Linked DNA regions of Homo sapiens: region 2 is linked to region 1. The links come from fine-mapping of genetic effects on gene expression. Tissue or cell type: gastroesophageal junction. Region 1 holds a variant in brackets; the other region holds the start of a gene. All regions are shown on one strand. Distances are from middle to middle.

The links. PIP is the estimated chance that this variant, and not a neighbour inherited with it, causes the effect.
Region 2: it holds the start of SRP72, and the variant in region 1 is fine-mapped to the expression of SRP72 in gastroesophageal junction (GTEx, PIP 0.96). The same link has a PIP of 0.9 or more in spinal cord.

Annotation. Positions count from the first base shown.
Region 1 is chr4:57,241,420-57,249,526 of GRCh38, forward strand. No RefSeq gene overlaps it. Among named protein-coding and RNA genes, the nearest start is that of IGFBP7, 140 kb to the left of the region's middle. The variant A/G (reference allele first, on the strand shown) is at 4,049.
Region 2 is chr4:56,462,720-56,470,812 of GRCh38, forward strand. It overlaps SRP72 (signal recognition particle 72), which reads left to right and starts at 4,898. Exons shown (of 19, transcript NM_006947.4): 1 at 4,898-5,025; 2 at 6,934-7,054. The coding sequence starts at 4,917. It overlaps PAICS (phosphoribosylaminoimidazole carboxylase and phosphoribosylaminoimidazolesuccinocarboxamide synthase), which reads left to right. Exons shown (of 9, transcript NM_001079524.2): 9 at 1-1,859. LOC124900706 (a long non-coding RNA gene) reads right to left here and starts at 4,839. Exons shown (of 2, transcript XR_007058126.1): 1 at 4,373-4,839; 2 at 1-274. RefSeq lists an enhancer at 4,743-4,952.

The DNA.
Region 1 (8,107 bases):
CATTAGAGATGAAAAACCAAACAATCCCTGTCCCCCTCAAACCAAAAGCTACTGGTGCTCAATTCACTAGGCAGAGAAGAATGGAGAAACTATGACCCTGGTTTCTTAAGCATTTGCTGACCTCCCCTAGGTTCAGTTTAAAGAGTCTTAGCCTCTTTGTGGTGATTCTCAGAACTATGATATTTCAGGGTTGGGAGGCACTTGGGTTAATATCTAGTCCAATCAAATACCTAGGGCTTGAATTTTTTCTTTTGTATCTTTACCAAAAGATCACAGCTTTGAATACATCTTGAATGCTTTCAGTCTTGAATACATCCAGAGGTGGGGAGCTCACTACCTTATGAGATATCTCATTTCATTTATGGTCAACTCTGTAGGAAATTTTTTACGTTGAACAAAAATCAATTCAAATGCTTTTACTGAGTGCATACTATGCTTCAGGTATTAAGTTCTGAGGATCTAACAAGTGAGCAAAATAGAAAGCAATCTCTGTGCTTTTGGAGTTTGCTTCCTACAGAAGAGAGACAGAATAAAGGCAAGTAAAATGAAGAGCACGACTGGGACAAGTAAGAAAGAAAGAGAATGCCAGGGGCGGACACTTGCAGTCTTAACTAGTGTGGTTAGGAAAGGCCTCATGGACAACTGACTTTCAAGTGGAGTCCTGAAAGAGCCATGTGAGTATCAAGGGGAAGAGCATTCCAGCAGCAGAAACAGTAAGCGCAAAGGGCCTGAGGCAGGTTTATGGAGCAGTGAAGAGGCCAGTGTGATTGGAATGGGGAAGGCAAAGGGGAGGATGGTGAGATATGAGGTTAGAAAGGGAATGGGAGGCAGACCATGGGAGCCAGACCCATGGGGCCTTGGGAGTCTTTGTAAGGATACCGTATTTTACTCTAAACATGATAAGGAGTCATTGGAGGGTCCTAGTACGATTTGACTTAAGTTATAGAAAATTTGCTCTGCAAATAGACTGTATGGGAAAGTAAGTGGGCTTAGGGAGAGCAGTTAGAGACTGCTGCGGAAGTTCGGGCCAGAGACAATGGCATCTTGGTGTGCAAAGTGTGTGGGCTCAGGATGTATTTTGAATAGTGCTCTTTGAGTTTCACCTGCGGATCCTAGCATTATCTCCTGGGGCTTAACACATGTGGTCCTCATGCATATATTCGGACCAAGGTAAAAATAAGGCAAATGCCACTTATTTCTTCCTTTTGACTCTTCCCAGCCCTCTTACTTCTTCCTCATAAGCAACCATCCTAAAGCATATGATGTGTATTTTTCTATTTGTATGAGTTCTTGTAAAACATGTACTTTTTTGTCACAGATTTTTTTTTTTTTTGAGATGGAGTCTCCCTCTGTTGCTCAGGCTGGAGTGCAGTGGTGCGATCTCAGCTCACTGCAAGCTCCGCCTCCCGGGTTCAAATGATTGTCCTACCTCAATCTCCCAAGTAGCTGGGGCTACAGGCACGTGTCACCATGCTTGGCTAATTTTTGTATTTTTAGTAAAGACAGGGTTTCACCATGTTGGCCAGGCTGGTTTCAAACTCTTGACCTCAGGTGATCCACCTGCCACAGCCTCCCAAAGTGCTGGGATTACAGGCCTGAAGCACCACGCCCGGCCTGTCATAGATTTAAAAAATTTTTAAAACTTAAATACCTGACTTTGTGCTATAGATCACCTTCTGTTTCTTTCTGTATTTTAAAAATCAATCTGCATTGCTGAATGTACTGAGTCTGCTGCTTCTGGCTGAAGCGACTTCTTCAAATGAGACAGCTGAGCTGTGAAAAACTCTGTTAGCACCTGTTTCCCTGGAGCCTTCTTCTTTCCAGTCCAAGCCTGTTCACTTCTTCCACTGTTCCCACATAACATGGCTTTGAGCCTTCTCTTGGCCTGGCCACTCTCTTTTGAGCCTTCCACGGCCTATTTTGGCTCATAGTCTTGGGCTTCTGAGAACAGAATCTATGCCTGAAAACCACTTGCCATTTTTCAGGCCTGTAAACAAGGTTCAGTAGCTGAGAAATGGGTGTGGGGACTTGGACTAAGAAAATAGAAGCTACAGGACAAAGAGAGCCCCTAGACTCCACATGTACCCAGAGCAGACTTTGCTTCAATTTTTTTGGGCAGTATAGAGTAGTGGTTAAGAATTTTGGCTCTTAGATTAGATAAATTTAGGCTTGTCTACTCATTCTCCTTCCTACTACACTCTGTGTTACTTTGGGTAAATCACTCAACTTCTCTGAGCTGCATTTTCTTCTTCTGTAAAATTGTGATAATCAGAAATAATTTTGTGAGGCTGTTATTAGATGCAATACTGTATGCAAACTTCTTGGCGCAGAGCCTGATACAGGGTGGGCCCTTGGTAAATATTGGCTGTAATTTTTAAATATAAATTCATACAAACCCAGATTGTCATGAAAATGAAATATGGAGCATTCATTTGCATCACAAAAGATATTAAAAGATTCTCTTTAATAACAATTTCTCTAGTGTATTTCTATAATTTAAATGACCCAAACTGGGTTTTGATGCTGCTTTTCAACAGTATAGATTGTATAGAGCTTGATTTACCTGTATTATGACAGTGAGGGAGATGCCCCACATGACCGTGAGAGATATTTTGAGATTTCCTGTCTATACACAGACATAGTGGTATTATATGTGTTCCCTCTGCCCCCAACCCTTGTCTCTGCCCTGTCTCCTCTCTCAGACTTTTCACAATGGTAATCCCAGCAGTGGGTTATACTTTTTAAGAAATCTTGAGGCTAACACTATATTCCAAGAAGTGGTGCATTCTGTTTTTTCCAGTAAAAACCTACAGTAAATGAAAATATAGAAGTAGAGGACTTGAAGAGACCAGAAGAGTTTGGTGTCATTGAATCCACAGGATTGGAAGGGAACTCAGTGGTCATCAAATCCTCCCTTCTCTTTCTGTAGATGAGGACACTAAGGCTTATGGTGGTGGAGAGACTTGGCTAAGGTCGCCCAGCTTATAAACAGCACAGCAGGAATGCAGACTTCCTGTCCAGCATTCTTTCTTCAACTCATGGTTCCTGGTAAGAATTGGATTTTCATCACCCATTTTTATTCAAGGAATGGAATTTGCACTTTCCCTTGGCATTCTATCCTAGTAAGAAAGTTTTTACTTCAACTTATCCCAATTCCCCCCCTTTTTTTTTTAGAAAGAGTCTCACTCTGTCACAAGGCTGGATTGCAGTTGCATGATCTCGGCTCACTGCAACCTCCACCTCCTGGGTTCAAGTGATTCTCCTGCCTCAGCCTCCCAGGTAGCTGGGACTACAGGTGCCTGCCACCACGCCCAGCTAATTTTTGTATTTTTGTAGAGACGGGGTTTCACCATGCTGGCCAGGATGGTCTCGATCTCTTGATCTTGTGATCTGCCTGCCTCAGCCTCCCAAAGTGCTGGAATTACAGGTGTGAGCCACCGCGCATGGCCCCAATTCCCTCTTTGAACAATTTAAATACCCAAACTCAGCCTGCCATAGAACTATCATAGATCTATGTCATTCTGGATATGGCCCAGAGAAAGGGAACACAGTGCAGGCTACACGCACACAGTCTGTTTTTACCTCCTTTTGCCCCCAACTTGAACTTCTTAAAGGCTGCTCCTCACTTCACTCCTTCCCCTCTATTTAATGTCTCTGCCACTAGAATGTGAGCACCAGGAGAGCCAGGTCTTCATCTGTTTTATTCTCTGGTGTATAAACAGAGCCTGGCATAAAACAAGAGCTAAGTGGATGCTTGCTGAAGGACTAATACACTTATTGAGTGCCTGCAATGTTCCAGGCACTCTTCTTGGCACACTGGGCACACATCCTCCCTTAGTACTAGGAATACGAAGAGGAGAGAAAAAAATATCTGTCTCTGATAGAGAAGCAAGGTTTAAGTTCACCCTGCCTCTCTCTGGCAGACTCAGAGGAAATCTTTTGACCAAAAAACAAGTAGCTTCTCTCCCTAACCCTCACATCATAATAGCATGTCATCATGCCTCACCATGCTACCACAGGCCACACACATGTGGATGTGTGTACATAT[A/G]CACATACACACAAGAGTCAGTTTTAAGTGACTGAAGTAGCAACTAAATTTCCATCTGTTTCCCTAATGTATATTTCTTACAGCCTTGCATGGTACAGGTACCTAAAATTCACACTATCAGAATGATTCTCTGGGTTAAGGAACATCTATAATAGTCCCATTTTGTTTGTTTATTACAAATAATTTCAACTTTTATTTTAGTTTCAGGAGGTGCATGTGCAGGTTTTTTACATGGGAATATTGTGTGATGCTGGGTTTTGGGGTATGATTGATCCTGTCACTCAGGTAATGAGCATAGTACCCAATAGTTACAACCCTTGCTCCCACTTTCTCTCCCTTCTAGTAGTCCCCAGTGCCTATTTTTGCCATCTTGATGTCCACGAGTACCCAATGTTTAGCCCTCACTTAGTGAGAACATATGGTATTTGGTTTTCTGTTCCTGCATTAATTTGCTTAGGACAATGGCCTCTAGCTGCATCCATCTTGCTGCAAAGTACATGATTTTGTTCTTTTTTATGGCTGCATAGTATTCCACGGTGTTTATAAACCCTATTTTCTTTATCCAATCCACTTCCAGTGGGCACTTTGATTCCATGTCTTTGCTATTGTGAATAGTGCTGTGATAAACATACAAGTGCATGTCTTTTTTTTGTAGAACAATTTATTTTCCTCTGTAGACCCACTTTAAATTATAAAGATTTTATCCAGAGACTCCAAAGGTTCTTTATTAGCAACACTGATATGTTCACATGAATTAATTTTTCGGGTCAATGATAGAAATGGACAGAACAGAGGGCATCCAAGAGCTTCCTTAAGAGGAAGTCAAACTGTCACCGTTTGCTGATGATATGAGTGTATACCTAGAAAACCCTGAAGACTCATCCAAAAAGCTCTTAGAACTGGTAAATGAATTCAGCAAAGTTTCAGGATACAAAATTAGTACAGACAAATCAGTAGCTCTGCTATACACCGATAGTGACCAAGCTGAGAATCAAATCAAGAATTTAACCCCTTTTACAATAGCTGCGAAACAAAACAAAACAAAAAACAACTTAGGAATATACCTAACCAAGGACGTGAAAGACCTCTGCAAGGAAAACTGCAAAACAATGCTAAAAGAAATCATAGATGACACTAACAAATGGAAACACATTCCATGCTCATGGCTGGGTAGAATCAATATTGTGAAAATGACATACTCCCAAAAACAATGCACAAATTCAATGCAATTCCCATAAAAATAACTTCACCATTCTTTACAGAACTAAAAAAAAATCCTAAAATTCATATGGAACCCAAAAAGAGCCCACATAATCAAAGCAAGACTAAGCAAAAAGAATAAATCTGGAGGCATCACATTACACAACTTCAAACTATACTATAAGGTCATAGTCACCAAAACTACATGGTACTAGTATAAAAATAGGCACATTTTATAGAATAGAATAGAGTCTGTTCTATAAAACAGAATAGAGAACAGAATAGAGAACACAGAAATAAAGCCAAATATTTACAGCCAATTGATCTTTGACAAAACAAACAAAAACATAAAGTGGAGAGGGGAAAGGACACTGTATTCAACAAATGGTTCTGGGATAATTGGCTAGCCACATGTAGAAGAATGAAACTGGATCCTCATCTCTCACCTTTTACAAAAATCAACTTGAGGTGGATCCAACACTTAAATATAAGACCAGAAACCATAAAGATTCTAGAAGATAACATCAGAAAAACCCTTATAGACATTGGCTTAGGCAAAGACTTCATGACGAAGAACCCAAAAGCAAATGCAACAAAAGCAAATATAAATAGATGGGACTTAAACCAAAAAGCTTCTGCACAGCAAAAAAATAATCAGCAGAGTTAACAGACAACCTACAGAGAAAATCTTCACAATCTATACCTCTGACAAAGGACTAATATCCAGAATCTACAAAAAACTCAAATAAATCAGCAAGAAAAAACAAATGATCCCAGCAAGAGGTGGGCAGATCGCGAGGTCAAGAGATCGAGACCATCCTAGCCAACATGGTGAAACCTTGTCTCTAGTAAAAATACAAAAATTAGCTGAGTGTGGTGGCACACGCCTGTAATCCCAGCTACTCCGGAGGCTGAGGCAGGAGAATTGCTAGAACTCAGGAGGTGGAGGTTGCAGTGAGCCAAGATCGTGCCACTGCACTCCAGCCCGGTGACAGAGTGAGACTCTGTTTCAAAAAAAAAAAAAAAAAAAAAAAAAAAAAGGTGGGCTAAGGACATGAATAGACAGTTCTCAAAAGAAGATATATAAATGGCCAACAAGCATATGGAAAAATGCTCAACATCACAAACTATCAGGAAAATGCAAATCAAAACCACAATGCAATATCACCTCAGTACTGCAAGAATGGCCATAATTTAAAAATCAAAAAATAATATATTCAGTGAAAAGGGAACACTTTTACACTGCTGGTGGGAATGTAAAATGGGGAAACAGAGGCTTAACAAAACAAAGACTAGGGAAAGTTAAATTATTTCCCTGGTACAGCTACTAGGGAAAACAGTGTGGAGATTCCTTAAAGAACTAAAAGTAGATCTACAGTTTGATCCAGCAATCCCACTACTAGGTATCTACCCAGAGGAAAAGAAGTCATTACACAAAAAAGATACTTGCACACGCGTGTTTACAGCAGCACAATTTGCAATTGCAAAAATGTGGAACCAGCTCAAATGCCCATCAATCAATGAGTGGATGAAGAAAATGTGATATATATATCATGTTTTATATATATATATAAAACATGGAATACTACTCAGCCATAAAGAGGGATGAAATAATGGCATTTGCAGCAACCTGGATGGAATTGGAGACTATTATTCTAAGTGAAGTAACTCAAGAATGGAAAACCAAGTATCATATGTTCTCACTCATATGTGGGAGTTAAGCTATGAGGACGCAAAGGCATAAGAACGATACACTGAACTTTGGGGAATTGGGGGAAATGGTGGGAGGTGGCAAGGGATAAAAGTCTACACATTGGGTACAGTGTACACTGCTGGGGTGATAGGTGCACCAAAATCTCAGAAATCACCGCTAAAGAAGCAACGCATAGACCGGTTACTTTGTGTATCACTGATGTAGAAGTCAGGCCACTGTCTGGGTAGGTAGGTCCTAGTGAGGCATTTGTGAGAAGATCCCTGGGCTTATAGGGGCCACAAGAAGGCTGTTCCTTAGAGGTGGGCAGGAAGGACAGAGGAGATCAATTTTGCTTACTTCACTTCATAGCTTTGCCTAAGGACTAGGCTTGACTTAAATGGAATGAATTTTTTTCTAAAAAAATTTGCTTCAGCATTTTGCCAAATGCTTGCTATAGGAGACACTCCACATATGTTGTTGTTCATCAGTGTGGAGCATTGAAAATAATCCGGAGTCGAACAGAAAAGAGTTCAAATCCACCGTTCTCTACTTTTAGCTGGGTGACATTGGGCAAGTTACTTAACTTTTCTGTTCCTTCATTTATAAAAACTTGAATGATAGAAGCCACCATATATGTTTTATTATATCAATTAAGTGCAGTAGCATCCCTAAAAGTAGATTTCCAGGCACTTGAGTGCTTTTTTGAGTAAACAGATTGAGTGATATCTTCCAGCATTATCTGATATACTCTTCTCCATGATTCTGTGAGGTGGCAACTATATGAGGCCCATTTTGTGAATGGGGAAACAGAGGCTTAACAAAGCAAAGACTAGGGAAAGTTAAATGATTTGCCTAAAGTTGGAGCCAGAGCAAAGATGACTCATAGATCAAAAGAACTGCTTGAAAGTAGCACCCACGATTTTCCTGCAGGCATTTTTGTTCTATTTGATACTAATGAGTTGGCTGTGTGGGCAGTGAGTTGATAAAGGAACATGAACTGAATCATTAAGCCTCCATTTTATTGTCTCCACTGTACAGATTTCACAACTGACTTGGGTGAGGAAATTCCACCAAAAACTTTAATATGGAAAAAAAGAGAAGGAAAAAAAAGGCAAGGTATCTCTAAATAGCTCTGCAAAGGTCAATGGGATTAATGTATCCTTTGA
Region 2 (8,093 bases), 780 kb before region 1:
TCTGGGCATGGTAGCTCATGCCTGTAATCCCAGCACTTTGGGTGGCCGAGGCAGGTGGATCACCTGAGATCAGGAGTTCGAGACCAGCCTGACCAACATGGAGAAACCCAGTCTCTAATAAAAATACAAAACTAGCCGGGCATGGTGGCACATTCCTGTAATCCCAGCGACTCAGGAGGCTGAGGCAGGAGAATCGCTTGAACCTGGGAAGCGGAGGTTGTGGTGAGCCGAGGTTGCGCCATTGTACTCCAGCCTGGGCAACAAGAGCAAAACTCTGTTTCAAAAAAAAAGAAAGAAAGAAAATTACCTGGAATTCAATATTGCCATCGGCTGATTTAATTTCTAATATGAAGAAAGGGGCAGTGTGATGTGCCACGGAGCATCCACAACCTGCCATTTCAGCCCAGCCAACCTTAGAAAGCCATTGAAAAGAGTTGTTTTTAATGGTGTTTTTACATCCAGCTTCCCACACCTCAAATACTTGGGGTGGAATTGTTAATCTCACATTGCAGTACAATGAAAATAGTGGAATGGAAATCAAGTTATAAAATGGAGCTAAATATTTCTTCTGCTTGCCTCTGAGTTGATAAGATACCATAAGATACTGTACATGAGGCTGGGCGCGGTGGCTCACGTCTTATTTCTTCTGCTTGCCTCTGAGTTGACAAGATACCATAAGATACTGTACATGAGGCTGGGTGCAGTGGCTCACGCCTGTAATCCCAGCACTTTGGGAGGGTGAGGTGGGCAGATCACCTGAGGTCGGGAGTTCAAGACCAGCCTGACTGACATGGAGAAACCCCCTCTTTACTAAAAATACAAAATTAGCCAGGCATGGTGGTGCATGCCTATAATTCCAACTACTCGGGAGGCTGAGGCAGGAGAATCGCTTGAACCTGGAAGGCAGAGGTTGTGGTGAGCTGAGATCGAACCATTGCACTCCAGCCTGGGCAACAAGAGCGAAAATCTGTCGCCAAAAAAAAAAAAAAAAAGATACTGTACATGGAAGCTTCTCAGGCTAAATCCATTAATATAAAAATACATTGTGGATACTGATGAGATGGCTAATTCTGTCAACTTGACTAGGCTACGGGATGCCTTGATAGCTGGTCAAACAACATTTCTAGGTACATCTGTGATGGTGTTTCTGGAAGAGACTAGCACTTGAATCAGTAGACTTGAGTAAAGAAGACTGCCTTCACCCATGTGGGTGAGCGTCATCTAATCCATTGAGGGCCTGAATAGAACAAAAAAGGGGAAGAAGGGTGAACTGCTGGGACATCCATTTCGTGCCCCCAGATGTTGGTGCTCCTGGTCCTCAGGCCTTCAGACTAGGACTTAACGTTATTGCCTCCCCTGATTCTCAAGCCCTCGGGTTTGGAACTACACTGGCTTTCCTGGGCCTTCAGCCTGCAGAAGGCAGACTGTGGGACTTCACCTCCATTTTGCAGAGCCAATTTCTCATAATCTGTACATATCCTATTGGTTCTGTATTTTTTAGAGAACAAATACAGCCTATTATGTATATATAAGACCCTGGGAATGCAAAGATGAACAAAATTAACCTTCTGCTCTCAATGAATCTTGGAAGTCTCCAGAGGCAGACAATTTCAAAACACCGTATATAGTCTTAATATGGAATTAACAATAGGGTATTGTGAATACACAAAAGTAGGAAGGACTCTGATCTCTAGAAAACAATTGTATACTGTGAATGAAAAAGACTAATTCTCCACAGTCTATACTCAATCTCTCTTACCTTTCCATAATTTTCTTCAGCAAACTTATTACCACCAAACATAGTACATGTTTATTTATTACCCATCTCTCCCAACTAGAAAATAAATGTATTACACTGGGCTGTCTTCTTTGTTGTCAGCTGTATCACAGCAACTGGTGTAATACACGGCACTGGCATATACAAGACAAACACTTGTCAGATGAATAAAAATGCAAATTCCAGGAGGTAGGGGGACACATAACTACATGGAAGTTAGAGGTGAATAGCATGCAAGGGGGCTAGGAAATAAGTATAGAGACCTATGTGAGTTGGGGAGGTGGCAAGCAGAGGCCAGATCACAAAAGCTCTTACTGCTCTTCTTTGGAGTTCGGATTTTATCGTGAGGGTAGGAAAGTGGCATCAGATACATGCTTTAAGAGATCAGTCTGGTTTTTTTCCCACCATGTGAAAACAGAAGATGCCATCTATGAATCAGAGTGGCCCCTCACCAGACAATCTTTCCATCCTTCACAATGTGAGATGTAAATTTGTTATTTAAAAAAAAAAAAACAAAACACCACTATGGTTTGGAAGATTCCTGTTTCAAAAATGGCAGGTTAAGCCCCATATTTATAGGCTGTTTGCCACAAAACTCCATTAAAATGACATAAGAAATAGAAACAAGTCCACAGCAGCAGAATTCTGAGCATTTCTAAAAGCTACAAAGTATATAGGATTAGAATGATATAGAAACGAAAATTGCCAATTCTTATATAAAGTCAATGTTCTAAAAAGTACTACTAGGACAGTGGCTCTTAACTTTTGGGAGGGGATGGTGGATATAAACACCTTTGGAGAATACAGTGGAATCTACATTTTCTCAGAATAACAAAATACAACAAAATTTTGGGTATACCCAATTTTCTCACACAACATTTTGGGTATACCATGTCATCTGGAGCCCCCACCCCCTGAAATCTAAACATAACTGGCTTGAAACCTGTGACAATTCTAGTCAGTAAAAGTCTAAAGCTCTTCTCATGATTTTTACTAATTCACAAGAATTACACCCTCCAGCACCTAGAGTTCAAGCCACCTTTCATGCTCTTTGCATTGTATATACTGGAAGGACCAGACAAAAATATGGCAGGGCACCATATGCCATATCAGGAGCTGGGCAGTTTCTGCCCTCAAGGAACTCAAGATTAGGCAAGGAATGTGAAACAAAAAATGCCAACTATGTGCCAGGCAGTATGCTAGATCCTAGGGATACTGCAGTGAGCAAGGTAAATATGGTTCCTTGGCCTCAGAACTATAGTCCATACAGAGTGAGATAACCCTTAATTATCAGTGCTCAGAAGTGGAGTCCTATAGGGAGTCTCCCAACCTTTTTGGCACCAGGGACCGGTTTCAGGGAAGACAATCTTTCCACAGGAGTTGGACAGCTGGTTTCAGTATGATTCAAGCTCATTACATTTCCCATTAGATTCTCTTAAGGAGTGAGCAACCTAGATCCTTCACATTCCCAGTTCACAATAGGGTTTGAGCTGTGAGAAGCTAATATCACAGCTGATCTGACAGGAGCTCAGGCGGTACTGCTCACTGGCCCACCGATCACCTACTGCTGTGCCGCCCGGTTCCTAACAGGCTGCAGACCAGTACAAGGGTTGGGGACCCCTGTTCTAAGAGGATGCAACCAGAAGGCTGCCCAGTCTGCAAGATCAAATGTTTCCTCAAAGTAACTTTCAACGTATAACCAGAAAGACTGAAAGACAAAAAGTAGTTAGCAAGGCCGGGCACGGTGGCTTACGCCTGTAATCCCTGTACTTTGGGAGGCTGAGAGAGGGCGGATCACTTGAGGTCAGGAGTTTGAGACCAGCTTGGCCAACACAGTGAAACCCCATCTCTACTAAAAATTCAAAAATTAACCGGGCGTGGTGGCTCATGCTACTTGGGAGGCTGAGGCAAAAGAATCGCTTTAACCCAGGAGGTGGAGATTGCAGTGAGGTTCATCCTGGGTCACAGAGCTAGACTACGTCTCAAAAAAAAAAAAAAAAAAAAAAAAAAAAAGCTAGGTTCCTGAGGGACACAGGAAGTAGTAGAAGTTGTAAAGGTCATGACGAGATATGAGTCTGAAGAGCAGGCCATTCAATGAAATACAACATTCACATCAAGTGAATCACTCACATCGTCTTGGTGTGGTGGCTCATGCCTGTAATCCCAGCACTTGGGGAGGCTGTGGTGGGAGGATTGCTTGAGCCCAGGAGTTCCAGACCAGCTTGGGCAACACGGCAAGATCCCCGTCTCAAAAAAAAAAAAAAATCACTCACATCAAGTGTACCCAACAGATATCCATTCCCTTCGTACATCTGAACACATCTTGATATTAACGGTCGCAAGCAAACCCTAATATTTTATATCTCTAGAACAAATATAGTATCCCCATTTCACAATCGGGAAAACAGACTCCCAGAAGCTAAGTAACTTGTTTATTGTCAGACATCTAGTGAGTCGCAGAGCCAGGGAACTGACCACGGGCATTTTCACCCCATTACCCTTCCAGCTTATTGCCGACTGCTCCCGAAGGGAGCGAAAAGGACAGGCAAAGGGTTTCACCAAACCCTTTGTAATGGGAGATTCTTGCCTTCTTACCTTTCCTCACGTTTGCTTCTCTGCCAGAATGTCTTCCCGCACTTTCCCCAGAACCCAAGTTCTCCTAATCATCTTTCAAGATCCCTTTCCCTCAACCACAGATGAGCCGTGCCTATTTCTCCTTCAAATGACTCCCTATGGCTTCTAGTTGGTAGTCTTTTATTTACCACCTCATAGTCCTTTTATTTATATCCCATAAATGATCGTCCGGCCCCGCACCGTGGGACCAGGACGCTGCCTCGACCATGGCGGTCTCCTGGAAACAGGCTGCTTTGAGCCGAAACTGGTGACCGTTTCCCAACCCCGTCCAGGAGTCCGACGCCTCTTTTCTCCAGGCCAACTTCAAGTGAGGTGTATCAACTCTATCCGCACAAATTTCTTGCCACGAGAGCAGAAGATTATGATCTCTGATGCTGCCTTAGGGCTGAAGACACTCCCAACTCGGCGACGCTTAGCAATCATCGACTTCCTCCTCCTCTTGGCTGCCTCGGAGATCCTGTTCCGGGGCAGAGGTCTCCCCGCCCCGCCCCTCGTCTCCTCCAAGATGGCGAGCGGCGGCAGCGGGGGGGTGTCAGTACCTGCGCTGTGGAGTGAAGTGAACCGGTATGGCCAGAACGGCGACTTCACGCGCGCTCTCAAGACCGTCAATAAGAGTAAGTGTCGGGGTGGGCACTGGGGCGGGCCCAGGCCGGCTGGAGGATGCGGCCTGTTTCCGGCGCGCGAGACCACCTCGCGCGGGAGGCACGGGAAGGGGAGACCCCCGAAACCCCCCCGTCTATTGTCCGCCCGGCTCGGGCCCTAGCGCCCGGAAGACGCAGGTCTCACTCCTCGGCTTCACCAGGCCAGCCTGGGGTCCCTGGTTGCTTACAGCCACGTGTACTTCTCTTTTTACCCTCCGCGGGAAGCGAGGGAAGGTTTTAAAGAGACCGCAGCTCCCGGAGTCCATTTCAAACTGTTTTCTTATTTGACTCCTTTGCTGCTTTATTTCACAAATATTCCAAAGTGCCTCCTTTTCTTCTTCGTCTTGAGCGCAGTGATCAGGACTCTATTGCTGAGGGAGCTTGTTCTCTTTGGCCGCTAAAGGGGGAGGAACCTGCTTGGGACACGTAGTTTAGAGGCTGGTGCTAACCAGGTGGAAGCTGTACGGGTTCTACGGGGCGAGAGGAAAGGGCTGGATCTGGATGTCAGGCCTGTCATTCCCATAGATGAGATCTCTTCAGTGTTATTAAGTTAGGAAATATGTGTGTGGAAGCACCAACACTTGAAATAATGTCGGAAGAAAAGTTTGGCCTGTTTTTTTGCCCTGTAAGGGATGATTTCGGTTTTTACCGCCTTTGGTGTGAGGTTTAATTCATCATATTCTTTTGTTCCTTACTACATACCTGGAATATGGCCATGCTGCTTAATGTTCTCGGTGGTGCGCAGTTCTTCTCTACTGAAGATACAGCCTGTGCATGTTAGATTTGGAAATGTAATTACCAAGGCAGGGCTTAGCTGTTCAGAGTAGCAGTAACCTAAAAGGTGTGTCAGTAACATGCAAAGCTATCTAAGTAATTTTCAACACTCTAGTACTGGGTTAACGTGAAAAGTAGTGATTGTGCCCACAGTGCACTTTTGGTGATTTCAGACATTGAGGAAAATAGCTACGAATTAGAATTATTTGATCCCTAAATTTGTTTGAATTAACTCTAGCCTTCCAACCAGTACTGTATACTTAGTATAGTATTTTGCAGGAATTCTTTAATCAGCAAAGATTGTCAACTTGTTTACCAGTATGTTTTCTTAATTGGTAGAAATTCTTGTGATTCTTTGAGAATTGGACTTCTGTAGTTGCACAGGAGCAAGAGTAACTATGATCCTGGTCATTTTAACACCGAACAGTTGTTAGCGTTGAAACTTGCCACCTGAGTTCTTCCTTATACTTTGGTCATCTTAGTTGAAAAGGGGAAATTTTAATGATTTTTGGAAACGTTGCCAGCAAGATAAATTGCCTTTGTATTATACTTTATAAGATTTTTCCAAAATATTCATTTCATATTGTCAGTAACCTTATTAAATAGGTAATGCTTTTCTAATCATTTTGTAGCTAAGAAAACTGAGATTTGGCTGTTAAGTGATATGCCCAATACCTCAAAGCATTTAGTGGCAAGCTTGCACCAAACCTAGGTCATTTGCTTCCAAATTCTACCTGAACTTTTTCCCTGTGAAGTAATGAACTATGTAGAATGTAGCATGCATTTCAAGATGAAATATCTGGAGAAATTGCTTCTTTCTTCTTTATTTCACTGCACTTTTTTGGTACATGTATATTGGGAATCTTTATCTCATTGAAAATTTAATCTATAACTCTCCTTATTGTCACTTCTTAAGTTAAAAGCAAAGATTAGTTGTTTTCTGGGTTTGTTTTGTTTTGTTGCTGTTTCTTCCAGTTGTTCTGACCAATTATTTCTGTTGCAATAAAAGTAGAAATTTAGCTTTCGGAGAGACAGGGTGGGAAAATTTAGTAAAAATGTGAAAAGGAAATGGATTTAAAAATGACTTTTCCTAAAATTGTTCTCTAGTACTACAGATCAACAAAGATGACGTAACTGCCCTGCATTGTAAAGTGGTATGCCTTATCCAGAATGGAAGTTTCAAGGAAGCTTTGAATGTCATCAATACTCACACCAAAGTGTTAGCCAAGTAAGTGATTCAGTTAGTTGCTTGTACAGTTATTAGAAACACTTACTATAGCTATAATCTCTTCCATGTTTTTTCCCAACTATTTGCTGATTTTTTTTAACGTTTTTTTCCTTCCTTTTTTTCCCCCCTTTTGCTTGTCAATAATGTTTCTGAACTGGAAGGAATACTAGTAACTTCTGTTTTTTTCAGCCTTAGAGAGTTTTTTTTTTTTTTTTTAACCACTGTGTTTCCTTTGAACCGCTAAGGAGGTGAACCATAGAGAGTTGTGGGGCATAATTATGAGTCGTTGGAGGATGTAGCAAGAATAACTCAGTCGAAGTTTCTTTACTGTTATACCTAGGCTCCAAAAAAATATGTATTGAAATTAAGTTTGAAGCATATTAATGGGATACTGGTTTATAAGGTGCAGAACAATATATATTATACTTCCTTTTACAAGAGGAGGAGGATATAAAAATTTATATATGCATTTGCCTGTATTTGCAAAACAAACAGTATAAAGAGAAACAATGAATAGTCATTTGTGGGAGGCCTAAGAGGGCGGATCACGAGGTCAGGGGTTTGAGACCAGACCGAGCAATATGGTGAAACCCCATGTCTACTGAAGATACAAAAAATTAGCTGGGTATGGTGGTGTGCACCTGTATTCCCAGTTACTTGGGAGGCTGAGGCAGGAGAATCACTTGAACCCAGGAGGCAGAGGCTGCAGTGAGCTGAGATCGTGCCATTGCACTCCAGCCTGGGTGACGGGGAGACTCCGTCTCAAAAAAAAAAAAAAGTCATTTGTAGGAGGTAATAGGAACAGGTTAGATTTGGGTAGCAGTGGGAATAAAGCCTCTTAGTGTATCTCTTTTTCTTTTTATATTTGAGGCGTATAAATGTGTTAGAGATTAAAAATTAATTGTAAACTTTATTAAAAATAAAAGGGAAATAGAGGCAATGCTGCTTTTCTCCTATTAAATATGTTTGCTAAAATTCAGTCTCTTGATTTTGGGCTATTTTGTGAGAAAAGAGACATTTTCAAAAACATTTTGTCAAT